Homo sapiens: one gene and its partner. The protein of the gene in region 1 interacts with the protein of each later gene in a pairwise test. Each region holds a gene or a part of one and is shown in the gene's direction. Other genes may lie near its edges.

The links.
Region 2: the proteins of SSX2IP (region 1) and ZNF3 interact in binary tests that used the Homo sapiens proteins (3 or more experiments, as listed by UniProt).

Annotation. Positions count from the first base shown.
Region 1 is NC_000001.11:84,687,439-84,695,529, reverse strand, and holds the start of SSX2IP (afadin- and alpha-actinin-binding protein), read left to right. Parts: upstream 1-5,068; 5' UTR 5,069-5,159; exon of another isoform or gene 5,160-5,478; intron 5,479-8,091. UniProt on the Homo sapiens protein: Belongs to an adhesion system, which plays a role in the organization of homotypic, interneuronal and heterotypic cell-cell adherens junctions (AJs).
Region 2 is NC_000007.14:100,071,658-100,078,896, reverse strand, and holds part of ZNF3 (zinc finger protein 3), read left to right. Parts: intron 1-1,463; 5' UTR 1,464-1,539; coding exon 1,540-1,594; exon of another isoform or gene 1,595-1,668; intron 1,669-1,674; exon of another isoform or gene 1,675-2,619; intron 2,620-3,266; coding exon 3,267-3,355; exon of another isoform or gene 3,356-3,470; coding exon of another isoform or gene 3,471-3,635; coding exon 3,636-3,762; intron 3,763-6,684; coding exon 6,685-7,239. UniProt on the Homo sapiens protein: Involved in cell differentiation and/or proliferation.

The DNA of each region.
Region 1 (8,091 bases):
CACCTCGCTATCTTTCTTTCTTGCTTCTATTTTCGCCGTATGAGGTGCCTGCTCCCACTTCACCTACTGCCATGACTGGAGATTTCTGAGGCCTCCCTAGAAGCAGATGCCAGTGTCATGCTTCCTGCACAGCCTGCAGAACCGGGAGTCAATTCAACCGCTTTTCTTCATAAACTACCCAGTCTTTACAGCAATGCAAGAATGGCCTAATACACTTACCATAGTAAAGTTCTATCAAGCCCAATTTCTTTTAGCCCTGGGCTAAAAATGTTCTTAGGCTTAAGCCTACAATGGCTTAAGCAATAGGCCATTTACTGTCTCACATGATATGCAGTGTAGAGATATACAGAGCCAAGGTAGGCTAATGTAGCCACTCAGTAACATCTGGGCTTGGGGTTGCCTTTTCTGTACAGGCACACCTTAGAGGTAGTGCAGGTTCGGTTCCAGACCACAGCAATGAAGCAAATATCACAATAAAGGATGTCACATAGTATTTTGGCTTCCCGGTCCATATAAAAGTTATTTTATACTATACTATTGTCTATTAGTATGCAATAGCATTATGTCTTTAAAAACAAGGTACATATTTTAATTGAAAAATACTTCATTGCTAAAAAATGCTAACAATCTAAAAAAATCTTGAAGCCTTCAGCAAGTTATAATCTTTTTGCTAGTGGAGGGTCTTGCCTTGATGTTGATGGCTGCTGACTGATCAGGATGGTAGCTGCGGAGGGTTGGGGTGGCTGTGGCAACTTCTTAAAATAATGCAATGAAGTTTGCCACATCGAGTGACTCTTCCTTTCACAAAATATTTTTGTATCATGCAACGTTGTCTGACAGCATTTTACCCACAGTAGAGCTTCTTTCAAAATTGGAGTTAATCTTCTGAAACCCTGCTGCTTATCAGTTTAAGTTTATGGAATATTCTAAATCCTTTGTTGTCATTTGAACAACGTTCACAGCATCTTCACCAGGAGTAGATTCCCCCTCAAGATACCACTTTCTTTGTTCATCCATAAGAAGTAGCTCTTCATCTGTTCCAGTTTTATCCTGAGATTGAAGCAATTCAGTCACATCTTCAGGCTCCACTTCTAGTTCTAGTTTTATTGCTATGTCTACCACATCTCCAGTTACTTCTTCCACTGAAGTCTTGAACGCCTCAAAGTCATATATGAGGGTTTTAATCAACTTCTTCCAAACTCCTCTTAATGTTGATATATTTTGACCTCCTTCCGTGCCCATGAATGTTCTCAATGGCATCTAGAATGGTGAATCCTTTCCAGGTTTTCAATTTACTTTGCCCAGTTCCATCAGAGGAATCACTATCTATGGAAGATACAGCCTTATGAAATGTATTTCTCAAATAAGACTTAAAAGCCAAAATTACTCCTTTATCCATGGGCTGCAGAATAGATCTTGTGTTAGCAGGCAAAGCTCTTGGGTAACCAGGTGCATTATTAATGAGCAGTGAGATTTTGAAAGTAATCTTTTTTTCTGAGTCATAGGTCTCAACAGTGGACTTAAAATATTCACTAACCATGCTGTGAACAGATGTGCTGTCAGCCAGGCCTTGTTGTTCCATTGATAGAACACAGGCAAAGTCAATTTAGATATTTCTTAAGGGCCCTAGGATCTTTGGAATGGCAAATGAGCATTACCTCCAACTTAAAGTCAGTAGCTGGAGCCGGGCATAGTGGCTTACAGCACTTTGGGAGGCTGAGGGAGGTGGAGCATTTGAGCTCAGGAGTTTGAGACCAGCCTGGGCAACATGGTAAAACCCTGTCTCTACAAAAAATACAAAAATTAGCTGGGCATGGTGGTGTGTGCCTGTAGCCCCAGCTACTTGGGAGGCTAAGGTGGGAGGATTGCTTGAGGATCACTTGAGGCTGCAGTGAGCCGTGATCGCACCACTGCACTTCAGCCTGAGCAACACATTGAGACCCTGTGTCAAAAAATAAAAAATAAAAATAAAAAGTCAGCAGTTGCATTAGCCCCTAACAAGAGTCAGCCTGTCCTTTGAAGCCAGGCAGGGACTTCTCCTCTTTAGCTAGAAAAGTTCTATGTGGCATATTCTTCTAATAGAAGGCTTTCTTTTGGTCTACACTGAAAATCTGTTTAGTGTAGCCACCTTCATCAATCAGATCTTCTAGATAAATTGCTGCAGCTTCTACAGCGGCACTTGCTGCTTCACTTGGCACTTTCATGTGACGGAGATGGCTTCTTTCCTTAAACCTCATGAACCAAACTCTGCTAGCCTCAAACTTTTTAAATGAAGCTTCCTCATTTCTCTCAGCCTTCATAGAAATGAAGAATTAGGGCCTTGCTCTGGATAGGCTTTTGCTTAAAGGAATGCTGTGGCTGGTTTGATCTCTTATCCAGACCACTCAAACTTTCTACTTATCAGCAATAAGGCAGTTTCACTTTCTTTTCATGCCTGTGTTCAAGGGAGGAGGACTTTTAATTTCCTTCAAGAACTTTTTCTGTGCATTTATAACTTGGCTAACTGGAACAATAGGTCTAGCTTTCTGCCTATCTCAGCTTTCAAGATGCCTTCCTCACTAAGCTTAATCATTTCTAGCGTTTGATTTAAAGTGAGAGATATGTGACTCTTCCCTTCATTTGAACACTTAGAGGCCATTGTAGGGTTATTTATTGGCCTAATTTTAATATTGCTGTGTCTTAGGGAGTAGGGAGGCCCAAGGAGAGGGAGAGAGATGATCAGCCAGTCAGTGGAGCAGTCAACATATACATTGAATTGGCTGTCTTATAAGGGTGCAGTTTGCGGCACCCCCAAAATAATACAATAGTGACATCACAGATCACCGTAACATATTTAATGGAAAAGTCTGAAATATTTCAAAAATTACCGAAATGTGACAGAGACACCAAGTGAACACATGCTCTTAGAAAAAATGGTGCCACTAGACTTGCTCAATGCAGGGTTGAGCAACAAACCTTTATTAAAAAAAAATACAGTGCCTGTAAAGTGCAATAAATTGAAGTATAAAACGAGGTACGCATGTATTTTTCTTGCTTTTCTCTCGTGGTTGCAGAATATGCTGCCACAGCTCCAAACATGTCTGGCTTACTGGAGGATGTCCAAGGCAAGAAGGAAAAAACTTGTCCTTAGTCTGTCAGGATAAAATCCTTCCCCTGAAGCTCCTCATCCCCCACTCCCCATTATGGACTGAGCAGAATTAGGTCATATTTTTAGCCCCTTAACCAGTTATTGGTTAACAAAGAGGGACAGAGTACAAAGAGGTTTAGACCAGTGGTTTTCAAAGATCTGCTGAACCTTGGGGCGGCAAGTTTCCAAGACCCTTCCAGGGAGTCTGCAAAGTCAAAACTATTTTTGTTATAATACTAAGATATTATTTGCCTTTTTCCCTCTCATTATGAGTGCACAGTAGAGTTTTCCAGACGCTACCTGAAATAGCACAACAGATCGAATGCACAAACAGATATGAAAATCCAAATGCCTTCTATTAAGCAAGACATTAAAGATATGGGCAAAATTTTAAAGTAACACCATTCTTTTAACTAATTTTTTGAAAATAGTTATTTTTAATTAAAATGCGCTATTTGACATTTTTATTTTTATTCATTATTATTTTAAAAAATAGCAATTTTTAAATTTCTGTTTTAATATTAATAGCTGTAACCAACATAAAGAAAAGTTCTTGGGGCTCTCAATAATTTTACAAGTGGAAAGCGGTCTTGAGACCAAAAGATTGAGACCGCTGGTTTATTCAGGCAGATCTTATTCCTTTCCCGGGGTTGCTGAGGTCAGAGCTAAACTTCCCAGAGCTCAACTAAGCTTGGTTCAAACCTTTTAAAAATGTAACTGTTAATGGTAACGCCACCTGGGCTCAACAGCAGCTAGACGGGCCTCTGATTGCTTGGCCAAAGGAAAAGAGGAGGATTTCGTTGGGCCCTGAAGTTGTCACCGTGGCGTGCTTCTTCTGGCCCTGATCTTTCATCCAGGATTGGGGATACGTGCATGCAAACTGGGAGGTGGACATTCCTCCCGCTCTTGTTTTTCAGTGTTAGCATCTTCACTCATACTGTTTTGGTTTCAAAGTGCTCTCAGGAGTCTCCTTAAAACACCAAACCTGTTTTTCGCCTTTTGAATAAATCCCTTGGCTTCACCAAAACTAAACAAAACAAAAATCAAAGAACATCTTTGTGTAACCTATATGCCTGTGATTTCTCCATCTGATCTCCTTTCTCTGGCCTCTTTTCTTTTCTTCCCCAGTGAATTTTAGGCTGCCATGAAACCAGGGAGGAGACAGCCTGACCCTGGCCACGGGTGCAGCAGGCATACATTTTCATCGCACATACTTTGTCGAGTGGGTGTAAGACATTTTTGCATAAACTGAGTTCACGAATGCTATTTCTTAGTCTTTCCTTTGCCCGCGGTCTTCTGCCCAGATCCATTTCTTCGCCCTAATTTTACATATAACTTTCTCCCGGCTGGATTGTTTGCATCCACGACTCCCGACGCTTGAACCTCCCGTTCCTTGGACCTGACCTAATTCTAGGTGCCCGCAGTTTATTTCTCCACTTTGGCAAACGCACGTGGCTCTCCTGGAAGCTTCACTTTTGCTGCTAGGCTGGGTGTTGGGGTTCAGTGGGGCTCGGAAAACGTGCTCTAAAGTAGCCACGACCCCGGTCCCTGCAGAGTCCCGGCCCCCACAGAGCCCCGGCCCCGGACGCTGCAGGCGTCAGAAGGGGGCGGGGAGCAGAAAACGGCCGGGTGAATCACTGGGCGTAACAGGTGCCGCAGCCGCAGCTGCGCCCGCAGCGCGCGCGGACCGCAGGGATAAGGTCTTCTTTTTCTCCGGGTTTTTTTGGAGGTAAGGAGGAGACTACCGAGGCCCCCACCCGACCAATGCAGGCCACGGTTGTTCATCGCCTAGCAACTGGCGGAGCCAATGGGAGGCGGCGGGGCCTGCGGCGCCGGCGCGCGGGGGCGGGGTGGGAACCTCGGAAACCTGCGGAGGCCGGGAGGCGGCTGCAAGGGGCGGGGAAGGCGGGAGCCCGCAGCGGAGGAGGGGCCGCGGGCGGGAGGCGCTGCGAGGCGCTGCTGGCCCTCGGGCTGCGGGAGCCGGGCTAGGACGCCGAGCGGTGACTCCCCGCCGCTCCCGGGGGCCGTGACGGTGAGCAGCAGCGCCTCGCGTCGGGGATTGTGACGCGCCCCGCCAGGGAGGGGCGGGCGGGGGTGGGCGCCGGCAAGGGGCGGGCGCGCGCGGAGGTGAGAGCCGGCACCTGGCTCAGCGCCCCGTTGTTCGGCGGGAGGCTCCGCGCGGCTGTTGGGGCCGTTGCAGGGTGCGGGCGAGCGTCGACCCGGGCCGCTCCTGGAGGAGGAGGTGGGAGGTAGGTGCTGGCCCCGGGACCGCTCTCGCTGGCGTTCGCGGAGCTGCGCCTGCGGAGCGCTCTGACCCGGGGAGCCCCAAACCCTCTCTGGGATGGAGCAAGGTTGGCGCCCGGCGTTGGGGGACGAGCAGCGCGGGGACGTGGGGGAGGAGGGGATGGCCGATTTGGGGCTGCAGAGTCTCAGCAGCGGCCGTGGGGCATGCGGGGTTTGGCGATTTGCTAGTGCAGCCGCAAGAGGCAGTCTTTAAAACGAGTTATTGGGTGGCCGCTGCAGTGGAAGAGAACCCCGATAGTGGTCTAGTAAAAAGTCTAGGGGAAGAATTTACATCATCCAAGAGGCAGGCATGTGTGAAAATACTTTGGTTTATAATTTTATCATGAAAATACTTTGGTTTAGAATTTTATAGTCAACGACAGTAAACTGAATTGTGAGCTCCCTGCACATTTTTTGAGCCTATGCTGATTGCCCAGTTAGGCATATCGCTTGGGCCCAGGACATAGAATATACTAATTTGCTGTCTGCACGTATAATGTAGGAATTTTTAGATTATTACCCAGTTTCAGGACCCATAGTTGTAAATGCCAAACTGCGATTACTAGCAACGCTGATAAAGTTCTTGAATCTGAGAGAATTGAGATTTCTCTTTTCTGGACGCTGTAATAGGTTGAGGATTAGAAAAGAAGGTGATTTAGAAGTGTAAGGGTGGAGGCTTCTTGAACTTCCTGGGCTTTCTAACAATTCAGATTAGAGTCAAGGTGTAGAGTTAGCTGTGGGTGATGGATGTCATGGACCTTTTCATGGTTCATGGGGGTTTGGCTTACTGTGGGGTAGAAGAAAATTCTGGTGATCCTACAGTTTGATCCTGAACTAGAAAGGTTGGTATGAGTTGACTCATTTAGGAGAGTGAATAAAATTTGTAAAGAATTAGAAATTTGGAGAGGAAAGAAATGCCTTTAAAGTTCACGTCAAGCTATTTTGAAATTTAGAAGTTAGAGGTAGATTTATGAATTTGGATCCAGTCGGCAAAACTTGATCCATCAGATCTCTTATCCTAAAACTATCAACCTACAGGCTTAGGAAGCTTAGGTTATTCATTCACACTAAACAAGTAAGGAAAGCTAATAGCTAATTTAACACTCTGTTCTGCCTGCTGTTAATGAAGGTTTCTCAAACAAAACGGTTCTTTGAGAAGAGGGTTAGGAACTGATAATTAAAACGAAGGCTCTTTTAGTGACTGGCTGAACCTCTTAGGCCAAGTCATTTTGTACTCTTCCTTCCCTTCTCTTTCCCCAACTGTACAGGGAAGATAAAAAGCTCATGGATTACGTAACATGGGTGAGGCAGCTTGAAGATAACTGTGAAGACTTAGTTATTCTAGGATGAAATGTGGAGATCTCATAACACATTGTGCCTTGTGACAAGACTTGTTAAAGCACATTATGTTCTAAACATAATGAGGCAGATATATGAGAAAACTAAAATGTTACGCTGAAATTGTTTGCTAAAGACCTCAAGTCCAGCACAGTGTCCAATTGTATACTTGGGATCTCCTAGTACTTGACAGTCTGCTTTTTGGCCAAAGCAGGCCGTGACACCGGTTTTATAAAGTAGGCGTTTGAGTGCCTTTTATGTAGTATACCCCTAGAGAAATTAGGTGCATGAAAAGACACCGCCCCCAAATTGTGTGATTTTAATTCATTTAACATGCTTAAATTGGATCGATTTCAAAGATTTTTAAGTTATTTTTTCCATATCTTTTACAATAGCTGTGAATATGCCTTACTGGTTTCACCATTTGCTCATGACGCAAAGAGGTTTTGATACGATGTGGGTTTGTTTTGTGGCTTTGGTAATGGTGATATGGTTAGCTAGTAGTGAAGGTACAAGTTATCTTGAATTCACGAGTTTATGGGATGAGATAGAATAGAGAAATGCACCATTCATTAGTAGTAATGAAAAACATCCTAGAATTGTGCCTTTTGATTGTGGGCCAATGTTTTATGTAGTACCAGCAGATTTACTGAATTATTCTTTAGTAATTCTTTCAATAAACATTCATTAAACGCTTAGTAAGCTGCTACTTGCCTGACCTGAGGATAAAAAGATGAGTGTTGCCTTGAGGAATTTGTATTTTAGAAATTATCAGCATAGTGAGGCAGGAAGCAAAAAAACCTCACAAAAAACAAATATAGGAAGGCTTTCAAAAAGAAGGAGAATTTCAGCTGTGTCTGGTAGAGGCAGTGGAGTTCATCAAGCAGCTGGTGCATTCTGCAGCAGTGTACAGTTGAGTTACAGGTGGCTTGGTAGAGTTGGACCAGGGTGGGGTTGCCATATTAATAAGGCTGTAGAACAGTGCTGTGAACATTGACCAGTAGGTTACAGGGAACCTTCAGAAGGTTTTATGAAGGGGAATTATATTTTATTTTTACTTTAGAAGGATATTTCCACCAAAATCAGTAATTTGAGTGATCCAAAATGTATTGAGTATAGTGCAAATAATATCTGAAAGACAGTCCCACACAGCAGTTAGACTTGAAGTATATTTTGCTGAAGCCCTCAGAAACTCCAGAAAAGCAGAAATAATTATACAACAAACCTTTCTTAAGTATCTTCTACTTTGAAGACTGGAAGAATAGGGATACAAATTAAATAAGATACTTCCCCATTTTCAAGCAACCTGCAGTTCAGTAGGAGAAATAACACAGTTATAATGC
Region 2 (7,239 bases), on another chromosome or scaffold:
CTTCCTTTGATGCCTTATGTGAGTGTAACAGTCTGTAATTATGAAGCACATACTTTTTGCATTCCCGATTTTTTTACTCCTTGCAGTTGTGAGTGGCAATAGAGTTAGCCCTCAGCAAACATTTGCTATGTGAGCAAATGAGTAAAGAGATAATGAGAGGTAGATCAAATCCAGGGTTGGTTGGTTTGTTTTGTTTTGTTTTGTTTTGTTTGAGACAGAGTCTCACTGTTGCCCAGGCTGGAGTACAATGGTGCGATCTTGGGTCACTGCCACCTCTGCCTCCCGGGTTCAAGCGATTCTCCTGCCTCAGCCTCCCAAGTAGCTGGGATTACAGGCGCATGTAACACCATGCCCAGCTAATTTTTGTATTTTTTCTTTTCTTTTTCTTTTTTTTTTTTTTTGAGGCAGAGTCTCTGTCTATTGCCCAGACTGGAGTGCAGTGGCGTGATCTCGGCTCACTGCAACCTCCACCTCCTGGGATCAAGTGATTCTCCTGCTTCAGCTTCCTGAGTAGCTGGGATTACAGGCACACACCACCATGCCCAGCTAATTTTTTGTATTTTTAGTAGAGATGGGGTTTCATCATCCTGGCCAGGCTGGTCTCGAACTCCTGACCTCGTGATTTGCCTGCCTCAGCCTCCCAAAGTGCTGGGATTACAGGCATGAGCCACCGTGCCCAGCCTGGGAGTAGTCTTTTTATGCCAGTGAATGTATATACCCGCTCCTGCATTTTGTTATAAATATTACTCAAAGTGATGGGGGCAGCCAAAGGCGGGATATTGTTGAGGAACTTGGGCCCTTTTTGTGGTCCTTGTGATAGTCTCATTTCAGGGAGTATATTTACCAGGATCTAAAAGACTAGTCTGAGGCTGGGCATGGTGGCTCACACCTGTAATCCTAGCACTTGGGGAGGCTGGGGTGGGCGGATCACCTGAGATCAGGAGTTTGAGACCAGCCTGGCTGACATGGTGAAATCCCACCTCTACTAAAAATACAAAAATTAGCCAGGCATGGTGGTGCGTGCCTGTAATCCCAGCTACTTGGGAGGCTAAGGCAGGAGAATCGCTTGAACCCGGGAGGCAGAGGTGGCAGTGAGATGAGATTGCGCCATTGCACTCCAGCCTGGGTGACAAGAGTGAAATTCCGTCTTAAAAAAAATAAAGAAAATTTAAAAATACCGGGCGCGGTGGCTCACGCCTGTAATCCCAGCTCTCAGGGAGGCAACAGGTGGGAGGATAGCTTGAGCCCAGGAGTTCCAGACCTGCCTGGGCAATATAGCGAGACCCTGTTCTCCACAAAAAGGAAAAAAAAAATTAAAAAATAAAAGAAAATAAAAGACTAGTCCCAGTTGCCACATTTCTTCTCACTGTTCCTGGGTACTCACTGAAATACTAGCTCCCATCTTTCTGTATTCAGGAGGTTTTTTTGAATTATCTTTGAACCTTGAACTTTTGCTTCTGCAGTGCTTCCTCATTCTCTTTTAAAACCCGCTTCCCGCTGAGTCTGCACCCAGGAGACCAGAGAGCACCTTGCCCTTCCATGGAAACTCAGGCTGATCTCGTATCTCAGGAACCTCAGGCCCTGCTTGACAGTGGTGAGGAATAAGGACTCATTCATTCTTTTACTCAGTCATTCTGCAATCATCCATTGAAATCGCTCACTTACCAGGTACTAGGCTAACTACTAGAATCCAGATGTGAATAAGACACACTCTTCGCCATTCAGTAACTCACAGCCTAGTGGGGAAGCTGACCGAACAGTAATCAATGACAGCTTGATAGGTTTGATAATTGAGGCAGATTGTTTTGTTTTGTTTTGTTTTTTTTGAGATGGAGTCTTGCTCTGTTGCTCAGGCTAGAGTGCAGTGGCACAATCTCGGCTCACTGCAACCTCCGCCTCCTGGGTTCAAGTGATTCTCCTGCCTCAGCCTCCCATGTAGCTGGGACTGCAGGCGCCCGTCACCATGCCCGGCTAATTTTTGTAGAGACGGGGTTTTGCCATGTTGGTCAGGCTGGTCTTAAACTCCTGACCTCAGTGCCCACCTTGGCCTCCCAAAGTGTTGAAATTACAGGCATGACCCACCGCGCCTGGCCACTGAGGCAGTTTTGAGGGGTTGTGAGTACCTCACGCGAGATTAATGAAACCGTGTCAATCATTCCATTTCTCGGGCATTCTATGCAGCCGACTTCATAGGCATAGTTTGTGCTTTTTAGGAGCATGCTTTTAGAGGAGGCGCTTCGGAATCATTTTATGGGTCATAGACAAAAAGACAGAGTGAATAGGAAGCCACTAAAGTATACTTTGCGGCCGAGCGCGGTGGCTCACTTCTGTAATCCCAGCACTTAGGGAGGCTGAGGCGGGCAGATCACAAGGTCAGGAAATTGAGACCATCTTGGCCAACACAGTGAAACCGCATCTCTACTAAAAATACAAAAAATTAGCCGGGCATGGTGGCACGCACCTGTAGTCCCAGCTCCTCCAGAGGCTGAGGCAGGAGAATTGCTTGAACCCGGGAGGTGGAGGTTGCAGTGAGCCGAGATCACGCCACTGCACTCCAGCCTGGGTGACAGAGTGAGACGCCACCTCAAAAAGAAAAAAAAAAAAGAATTGCAGAAAAAGGTAAGAGATTCAACACAGAAACAGGGAACATTTTTAGTGTACAGATTTGATCTGGGGTGGAGAGAAAGGAGCTGTGGGCATTGTGTTTCCAGTCAGGGCTGGGGTGAAGCTGCTGGTTTTTCTCTGGTCTAAGAACTTCATGCTGGGTGCAGTGGCACACGACTGTAATCCCAGCTATTTGGGAGGCTGAGGCAGGAGGATCACTTGAGCCCAGGAGTTTGAGACCAGCCTGGGCAACATAGCAAAACCCACCTCAAAAAAAAAAAAAATAGAACTTCATGCAAGAGCGGGATCATATGTTTCTGGCCAAGCTTGGGTGAATGGACAAGAATGCAGTAATCACTAAGATAGGACTGGGCGGTTTCATTGAGAGAAGAGTGACTGGAGAGAAGAGGGGACCTGGGACAGACTGGAGACTAAGAATGACCAGGCCTGTGGCCATCTGCTCAGGCAGGATGGACTCGCTCTGAGTTTGCCTTTGTTGGACACACTGTAGCTAGCTGCAGAGGAAGCAAACTTAGAAATGTGAGAGAGAGGGTCCTGTGTTGTCCCAGGACCCCGGGAGCTTTCTGTGGGTTGGGAAGTCAGCAGGTTGGGAGGTCACAGAGCAGATGGACTCATTCCTGGGCCCTTTTATTGCCCTTCAGCTCTTCCTTCAAAAGTTCCTGCCTTTTCCGACAAGGACAGCCTGGGGGATGAGATGTTGGCGGCTGCGCTCCTAAAGGCCAAGTCCCAGGTGAGCTGTGGTTCCGTTTATCCTTTTCCTTTCCATTTTCTGTGCAATGACATCCCATTCAGAGCTTTAAACCCTGATCTCCTCCATCAGGCCCATGGTTCTGTCCTGCTGAATCATGGACCCTCACCTTCTATCTTGGACTCCTGTCTCTCTTCCTCCACCCTGTCCTCCCTTCCTCCCTTCCCAAATGTGCATTTTTCACCCCATCCTCAGTGATTTTTTTGGTGCCGCCATTCACATTCCTCACCCTGAAATTGCATGCCAGCACGTGTTGTTTCAGGAGCTGGTAACCTTTGAGGATGTAGCTGTGTACTTCATCCGGAAGGAGTGGAAGCGTTTGGAACCTGCTCAGAGGGACCTCTATAGAGATGTGATGCTGGAGAATTACGGGAATGTGTTCTCACTGGGTAAGGAGTTATGCCTTGTCAACAAAACTCGCTGGTGTTTCTTTGCTTCTTCGTTTGCTAGTAACAATCTAGTCACTGAAAAGAGCTGTTTCAGCAGATTTTTTTTTTGAGGTGCAATGGCACAATCTTTGCTCAGTGCAACATCCATCTCCCAGATTCAAGTGTTCCCAGGTTCTCACCTCTGCCTCCCAAGTAGCTGGGACTACAGGCACGCACCACCACACCAGGCTAATTTTTGTATTTGTTTTGTTTTTTTTTGTTTTAGTAGAGACGGGGTTTCACCATGTTGGCCAGGCTGGTCTCAAACTCCTGACCTCAAGTGATCCACCCGTCTTGGCCTCCCAAAGTGCTGGGATTATAGGCATGAGCCACTGCACCTGGCCTAGGTAAGGATTGACTTAGTCTTAGGAAACTGTAAGAACAATAATCTTAACTCATTTATACAGCAGTCTGCAACTTATAAAGAGTTCTCATATATATTCTTTCATTTAATCTTCACAGTAACACATTAATTGAGGCAGCTAGTATTATTCCTCATTTTACAGGTAAGGAAAGTGAAAGTAGTCCAGGCGAGGTGGCTCACACCTGTAATCCCAACACTCTGAGAAGCTGAGGCAGGAGGATCACTTGAGGTCAAGAGTTCAAGACCAGCTTGGGCAACATGGCGAGACCCTGTCTCTACCAAATATCCAAAAAATTAGCCAGGCATGGTGGCACATGCCTGTAGTCCCAGCTACTTGGGAGGCTGAGGTTGGAGGATCACTTGAGCCTGGGAAGCCGAGGTTGCAGTGAGCCGAGATGGCATTACTGCAGTCCAGCCTGGGTGACACAGACCCTGTCTCAAAAAATAAATAAGTAAATAAAGTGGAGGTGAGAGTAGCGGTCTCAATGTCTTGTGCATGCATGGTCATCAGTTGGGCTGATGAGTGGCAAAACTTGGGGCCCAGTCTTTAACTCCAAATCTGGTACCTTTTTTTTTTGAGATGGAGTTTCACTCTTGTTGCCAGGCTGGAGTGCAATAGCGTGGTCTCGGCTCACCGCAACCTCTGCGTCCTGCGTTCAAGCAATTCTCCTGCCACAGCCTCCTGAGTAGCTGTGATGATAGGCATGCGTCACCACACCCAGCTAATTTTGTATTTTTAGTAGAGACGGAGTTTTTCCATGTTGGTCAGGCTGGTCTCGAACTCCTGACCTCAGGTGATCCACCTGCCTCGGCCTCCCAAAGTGCTGAGATTACAGGCATGAGCCACCGCGCCTGGCCAAATCTGATACTTTTTCCGTGTTATTCTCAGGACTTAATATATAATCCAGAGACTTTTCCGAAGGATTATCCCTGAACACATGAGGTGCTGCTCTTTGCCCACGTCTCTGTCCTCTCCTTCTCTGCTTCTCTGCTCCCCTTCTCTAACTTCTAGGGACCTGTTGCTTTGTTCAGGACCTAGTGCCCCTGCTGCTCTGTAGAAACTTAGAAAGGTTAAGAAATTAGGCCAGGCGCGGTGGCTCATGCCTGTAATCCCAGCACTTTGGGAGACTGAGGCGGGCAGATACTGAGGTCAGGAGTTTGAGACCAGCCTGGCCAACATGTTGAAACGCCATCTCTACTAAAAATACAAAAAAAATTAGCTGGGGGTGGTGGCATGTGCCTGTAATCCCAGCTACTTGGGAGGCTGAGGCAGGAGAATTGCTTGAACCTGGGAGGTGGAGGTTGCAGTTAGCCAAGAACACGCCACTGCACTCCATCCTGGGCGATAGAGTGAGACCTTGTCTCAAAAACAAAAACAAAAAAAGAAAGATTAATAAATTAGTTTCTCAACTTTTAGGATGTAGAATTCCTTGTCTCTCACCCCACTCTTAGTGGGCATTTTCCTGAGCAGAGCCAGGACGTCTTCCTAACTCTCATTTGAGACCTTCCTGTACATTTCCCTTCTGTCCCCGGCAGATCTGGGGTCTGGAATTGAGCTCTGGGACTCTCAGGGTGAGCAGATAAACCTCCTTGTCCCATGTCTCTCCCCATGAGCAGAATTCCCATTTCTGAATCCTGCCACCATCTCTCTGCTAGAATGAGAGGAAGAGCCAAGGGGCCTGGGTTTCAAAGGAACTGAGAGCAGAGAGGTCCTAAGAGGTACCTCTTCAGGTGAAGGAGAAACAGCCGTTCCCGTCCCTAACACACATTACCCTGTCTTTACTTTTTAAAATATCAATTAAGCTAAAAACGCAAACTCTCTGGACCCTTTACATTTATCCTCTGTGCCCAGAGTTGGCTTTAGAAACTCAAAAGGAGTGAAAACAGAGACGTCAGACACTGAGATTCTTTGCATAGCCTTACGTGCGAGCATAGCCTTTTATGCATAGGGCCCAGAGGCGGACTCAGTTGTCTTGCCGTTTCCATGGGCTTGGCATTTGTGGCGTGACGACAGCCATGATTGCTCTTCTTATGGGGCCATGGCAGCCACTAGCATCCTCCCCCTTGCTTGTTCCCGCGCTGCTGCTGTCTCTCCTCACCCTTCCCCCCTTTTCTCACCAACTGTCCTGTACTTGCTCTCCCTTCTTGCAGTCACTGTGTCCCCAGTTATATCCACTGCCCTGACCTCTCTAAAGGCTTTGTCACTTCATTAAGCAATATGACCTTCCTCTTCTAAAGTTGGTTCCCTGCCTCTCTGCCTGATCCGTCCTCCCCTCCACACACACTCAGCTTTCTTTCCACTTCCAGCTCTGTTCTCCTTGGTTTTGCTCTGCCCTGCCCCTTCCCTGTCTCCTTAGCCCGGCTGTCTCATTTTGCCTTAGCCGCACACATGTGGGGCAGGCCTCTTTGTAGGCATGTGCTTTTGGCACTGTAAGTATTCGTTACAATGATCCTGTCCTGTGATTTTCACTCTTTCTTCCCTAAGGAACAAGTGACATTTGCATTTTTTATTGTGTCAGATCGTGAGACCAGGACTGAAAATGATCAAGAAATTTCTGAAGACACAAGATCACATGGGGTCCTACTGGGAAGATTTCAAAAGGATATTTCTCAGGGTCTCAAGTTTAAAGAAGCCTATGAACGAGAAGTCAGTCTGAAAAGGCCGCTGGGGAACTCCCCTGGAGAAAGACTGAACAGGAAAATGCCAGATTTTGGTCAAGTGACAGTTGAGGAGAAGCTAACCCCCAGGGGAGAGAGAAGCGAGAAATATAATGATTTTGGGAACAGCTTCACTGTGAATTCCAACCTTATCTCACATCAGAGACTCCCCGTGGGAGACAGACCCCATAAGTGTGATGAATGTAGCAAGAGCTTTAATCGAACTTCAGACCTTATTCAACATCAGAGAATCCACACTGGGGAAAAGCCCTATGAATGTAATGAGTGTGGGAAGGCCTTCAGCCAGAGCTCACACCTTATTCAGCATCAGAGAATCCACACTGGGGAAAAACCTTATGAATGTAGTGATTGTGGGAAAACCTTCAGCTGTAGCTCTGCCCTCATTCTGCATCGGA